2 separate regions of the Homo sapiens genome follow, and region 2 is linked to region 1. The links come from fine-mapping of genetic effects on gene expression. A gene starts in region 1. The other region holds a variant in brackets. All regions are shown on one strand. Distances are between the middles of the regions.

What was found. PIP is the estimated chance that this variant, and not a neighbour inherited with it, causes the effect.
Region 2: its variant is fine-mapped to the expression of TDRKH in whole blood (TOPMed, PIP 0.94).

What each region holds. Positions count from the first base shown.
Region 1 is chr1:151,788,971-151,791,874 of GRCh38, forward strand. It overlaps TDRKH (tudor and KH domain containing), which reads right to left and starts at 1,530. Exons shown (of 13, transcript NM_001083965.2): 1 at 1,410-1,530. It overlaps TDRKH-AS1 (TDRKH antisense RNA 1), which reads left to right and starts at 1,779. Exons shown (of 2, transcript NR_146292.1): 1 at 1,779-2,275. RefSeq lists a silencer at 1,215-1,474.
Region 2 is chr1:151,768,665-151,771,568 of GRCh38, forward strand. OAZ3 (ornithine decarboxylase antizyme 3) reads left to right here. Exons shown (of 5, transcript NM_016178.2): 4 at 1,508-1,593; 5 at 2,413-2,666. The coding sequence ends at 2,555. It also overlaps a transcript of TDRKH not described here. Among named protein-coding and RNA genes, the nearest start is that of OAZ3, 3.5 kb to the left of the region's middle. RefSeq lists enhancers at 406-1,102, 1,103-1,797. The variant A/G (reference allele first, on the strand shown) is at 1,269.

The sequences.
Region 1 (2,904 bases):
GCAACCGTGGCTGCAGGAGACCAATCAGGGCCTAGTCCAGGTGTCAATGATGGAGATGGAGAACAGATGAATTGGAGAGTTTGTTGTTGTTTATTTAGAGACAGAGCCTTGGTCTGTCACCCAGGATGGAATGCAGTGAATGATAATAGCTCACTGCAGCCTTGAACTCCCGCAGTCGTCCGGCGTAGCTGAGATTATAGGTGCGGTTTTGGCCGACTTCTATTTGAAGCAAAAGGTAAATTTCACTAACTCCTCTTCAAACATTACAAATGAATTTGTGCTAATTGAGTTATCAGCTGATGTCTCAAAAAATGAGACTCTACTTGATCTGTCACTATGGTTTTGTTCACAATTTTCATATCCTTTCAGCTATAAGTTTCTCTTAAAGAGAAATGGAAAATAATATAATGTAAACGGGGATAACTGCATAGTACTGACTGCTAGCTTGTGTTTGATTTTATTACTTAAAAATTGAATGGGAAGGAGGAAAATACTAGAACTTAAGACCACAGTTTCTAGGGGAAGCTAAGAAGAGAAGATGAGGATCATTGTTCAGTGAGGAATGTGGTTAGATAATGGTTTTCAGTGAAAGCTAACTTTGAAATTTCCTGACATTTGTATTGAACAATTGCCAAAAACTATCTGATATGCATCGCTAAGGCTTACTTTATCATTTAAAATGACAGGAGTCAAATAGGATGTGATGAGAAGTCAAATCACATTGTTAGCTCCATGAAAGCATAGATAACTCATTCCAGTATCTCCTAATAACCAGAACCTACAAAGAACCTACAACATGGTGACATGCTTGAATCGAAGCAGCTCAATGTTCTCATCCTTGGTACGTTTATTTTAAATTCACGAGAAAAAAAAAAGTGTCAACCCCTTTCTCTCAAAACAAGGAAAGGGTCTAAAAGTCAGTCTTTGAAATAGGGGTCTCCAGCCAACCCCCACGATGATACCTGGATTAAGGAATGAGGGATACTGGAAAAACAAAAACCCCAATGTATTATTCTGACGACTGTAAACAGCCATCCTATTAGCGATAACTAAAGAAAAAGCTGGGGAAAGTTAAAGGCAAAGTGATATACGGATGGCAGCTCTCAGTCTCAAAAAGGCCCAGTGGAAGAGTCTGAACTGACTCAGGGCAAACACAAACGCTCCCGCACCGGGTCCGTTGTGGCGTAAGCGGGTGACTGGAGCATCTTCCTCAGATACAGTTACGAGTTCCCAGTGGGTCAAGTTGCCCCCGAGCGGCGTCTCACAGCCCAGGGCTCTGACTCCCCCGCTGCGCCCCACATCCTTCCCTCGCCCCGGGGCACGCCAGACCCCTCCCTTCCCTCGCTCCCGCATTTCCGTCTCCTAGTGGCCAGGGCTGCCCATGACCCTGTCTTTCCCACTCCCCAAACCTTCGGTCTCCATCCTCGCCTTTACCGCTGCTCCAGTCAGCCGTCGAGTGCGCCGCCTCGCGCCTCACCCCAGCTGCAGCCACCAGCGCCGCCGCCTCCCACTCACACCACCACAGTGAGCCCCGCCGGCGGCGCTTCAGCCGCCACTTCCCCGCCCCCGCAGCCCGACAGCACCAATCAACACCCTGCTCGCAGTCCGACCAATCGCCTTCTCCCGTCACAACCAATCCTTCCGCGGGCTGCCCCTGAGCGACGTGGCTGCTGCTAGCCGCTGCCCAATTACCCGGATGGAATCCAAAGCAGGCCCACCCTGTCAGCCAATAAGATCCAGGAAAAGCAGATGTTGTTAACTGAGACCGCACCTGCTGAGAATTAAACAGCCAATTACAAGCTTCCCGGCGTCCTCGCAGACCACCTCTAGGCCAATTACCGAGGAGTTTTCTATCTTCTAACCCTTGGAGGAAAATCTGCGCTCCAGCAGCTGGGACCGAGGCATGAGAGCGTTGAATCATGAGTGGCACCGTTCGCAAAAATTGGTGTCTTTGTACAAAGACAGTGCCACAACACAACTCAGTGACCATCGGGAGAGCAGCCTCATGATGGGCGATGCTCCATCAGTTTTCTCTTGCGATCTTTTGCATAGATCGGTCCCGCCCCGCATATGGCGATGAGGACTCAAGAGACACGGAAAACGTTTTCTTTCTGGAAAACATGAAATAGGCTTTGTAGATGGACAGGAAGTCAAGGGACAAGCGGTGCGCCGCAGAGAGCGAGGACCCACTCTTCTATTCCTTTGCGGAGGCACGGACACACGGTGTGGCCCGAAACAGCGGCAGGAGAGTGAGACCCGGGCTCCGACCGCGGTGGTAAGGGGGCGGCGGGCCATAGGGGCGCCAGGGGCCCACCCTTCCCTGGGGATTCGAGGAAACGGGTCGAGGCGACAGCGTGAAGGCCTACGCCGGGGGAGGGGGTGGTGGCGGGGGGCGTTTCTGTGGGGGCGAGGAAGGGAGCGGGTCTCCGCAGGCGGAAGTTTGCTTTGGAAGATTTTATTCCAGACGCTGTCCTGGTCCCTGGACGGTTAGGAACGGTTGGGTCCTGCTACTGCCTCCGTGGGGCAGGGAGCCTCGCGAGACCAGCACTGCGCCCTACTCGGTCCACCCTGTCCCCGCTCCGCGCTAGGGGCTCACCCTGGGAACAGGGGTCGGGCGATCCTGGTCATTGGGGGATCTTCCGCACTAGCTTCCATCACAATACCTGGCAGGTGATGAGCAATAAATATTTGCTGAAAGAACGCAAGGTTGTATCTTTTGTCAATTAGGCAGATGCCTTTGGGCCTCAGGTTTTGCTTTCTATTAATATAAAAATGTGTATGCGTTTTGAATAAGTAATACATTTACATTCTACAAAATTCAGAAGAAACAAGGTTATTATAGTGAATAAATTTTCCTTCCTTCAAGGCAACTAGGGTTACCAGTTTCTTGTGAAAAATTTCACA
Region 2 (2,904 bases), 20 kb before region 1:
AATTTTTTTTTCCCAGTATTTATTGATCATTCTTGGGTGTTTCTCACAGAGGGGGATTTGGCAGGGTCATAGGACAATAGTGGAGGGAAGGTCAGCAGATAAACAAGTGAACAAGGGTCTCTGGTTTTCCTAGGCAGAGGACCCTGCGGCCTTCCGCAGTGTTTGTGTCCCTGGGTACTTGAGATTAGGGAGTGGTGATGACTCTTAACGAGCATGCTGCCTTCAAGCATCTGTTTAACAAAGCACATCTTGCACCGCCCTTAATCCATTTAACCCTGAGTGGACACAGCACGTTTCAGAGAGCATGGGGTTGGGGGTAAGGTTATAGATTAACAGCATCCCAAGGCAGAAGAATTTTTCTTAGTACAGAACAAAATGGAGTCTCCTATGTCTACTTCTTTCTACACAGACACAGCAACAATCTGATTTCTCTATCTTTTCCCCACATTTCCCCCTTTTCTATTCGACAAAACCGCCATCGTCATCATGGCCCATTCTCAATGAGCTCTTGGGTACACCTCCCAGACGGTGTGGCGGCCGGGCAGAGGGGCTCACTTCCCAAAAGGGGCGGCCGGGCAGACGCACCCCCCACCTCCCGGAGGGGGCGGTGGCCGGGTGGGGACTGCCCCCCACCTCCCTCCCAGACGGGGCGGCTGACCGGGCGGGGGCTGCCCCCCACCTCCCGGACGGGGCAGCTGCCGGGCGGAGACGCCCCTCACTTCCCAGACGAGGCGGCTGCCGGGCGGAGGGGCTCCTCACTTCTCAGACAGGGCGGACGGGCAGAGATGCTCCTCACCTCCCAGATGGGGTCGCGGCTGGGCAGAGACACTCCTCAGTTCCCAGACAGGGTCGTGGCCGGGTAGAGGCGCTCCCCACATCCCAGACGATGGGCGGCTGGGCGGAGACGCTCCTCACTTCCTAGACGGGATGACGGCCGGGCAGAGGCGCTCCTCACATCCCAGACGATGGGCGGCCAGGCAGAGACGCTCCTCACTTCCCAGACGGGGTGGTGGCCGGGCAGAGGCTGCAATCTCGGCACTTTGGGAGGCCAAGGCAGGCGGCTGGGAGGTGGAGGTTGTAGCGAGCCGAGATCACGCCACTGCACTCCAGCCTGGGCAACACTGAGCACTGAGTGAACGAGGCTCCGTCTGCAATCCCGGCACCTCAGGAGGCCGAGGCTGGCAGATCACTCGTGGTTAGGAGCTGGAGACCAGCCCGGCCAACACAGCGAAACCCCGTCTCCACCAAAATACGAAAACCAGTCAGGC[A/G]TGGCGGCACGCGCCTGCAATCCCAGGCACTCAGCAGGCTGAGGCAGGAGAATCAGGCAGGGAGGTTGCAGTGAGCCGAGATGGCAGCAGTACAGTCCAGCTTCGGCTTTCACAACTTTGGTGGCATCAGAGGGAGACCGTGGAGAGAGAGGGAGAGGGAGACCATGGGGAGACGGAGACGGAGAGGGAGAGGGAGAGGGAGCGGCCAAACATTTTAACTGTTTTTCTGTGGCTCCTAGTTTGACTGCAACCCTGGAGTACGTGGAAGAGAAGACAAATGTGGACTCTGTGTTTGTGAACTTCCAGAATGATCGGAACGACAGAGGTGGGGATCTGCTGTTCTTCCTTGCTTTTCGCGCTGAGGCAGCTGGATAACTCCTTTTCCTTTATAGGAGACCCTCTTCCCCTGTCTTTAAAAATGCACCCTCAGGCATTTCAGGGATTCTTTTCTTCCCACCTACCACGAAGGTGGGAAGTTGTAACTTGTTCCATCAAGTTACAACTGGACTCTGAGGAAGCCCCTGCAGGTGGTGTTAGGGGCCAGACTGAAGGAGCACTGGTGAAATTACACAGAATCCATTCAAGGGATGTGGCCAGCAGGACAAAATGGATCTCAAACATATGGAGCACCTACAATGTGAAAGGGTCAGACATAAGGCCAAGGGAACGGGGACATATTTAACCGGATGCCTGGAGCATATGTTACAGAAACTATAGCCTCTTGCCTCAAGGAGCTCAAACTCTGTTGGATATAAGGGATGGTGAATAACCATTCATAAGTGATAGATACTATTTCAGAGCTTACTATGTCATCATTGTATTAGTATATAGGTAGACCTCACTAATCTCTAGTGTTAAGCACTTCATGAACATCTCATTTCATCTTAAATTCTGTGAGGAGGAAGGTTCTATGATTTATAAATGGAAAATTCTATAGATGGAAACTGAAGTTCTGCAGGACTAACTCACAGAACAAGTGTTAAAACCAGAGTTAGAGCCTAGGTCTGTTGGACTAAAGCACATCCTATATGCCTGCACTACACTGCTTCCCAGGGCCACTCCCTAGTGGAAGAAATCAAATCTGGGGGCATACATGTATTGAGTTTTAAAGCATGTTCTAATCATTTGTTCTATCCTTTCACAGGTGCCCTGCTGCGGGCCTTCAGCTACATGGGCTTTGAGGTGGTCAGACCAGATCACCCTGCCCTCCCTCCCTTGGACAATGTCATCTTTATGGTGTATCCCCTTGAAAGGGATGTTGGCCACCTGCCCAGTGAGCCTCCTTGAACATGCTTATTCCAACGCTTTGAGGGGCTGGAAGCCTTGACACATGGAATCAGGGGCCCGGGATGTGATTCAGGACACTTTCCATCCTAGGAATAAAGGGTAGTGCAATCATCAAGTGTTCACGGTTTCTTGGGGGGGTGGGTAATAGGGTTGACTGGAGTGGGATATACACCTTAACAGAGCTAAATTCACTGAAAAGATCACAGGGACCTGAACTACGGAGGAAAGTACCTAAGGATTTTTGGTTCCCTTTGCCTTCCTCCATGCCCCAAACTATTTCCCCATTTATTCTAACCATTTACTGAGCACTAATCAGTGAACTTCCTAGTTCAGAAAGACTGAGCTTTGT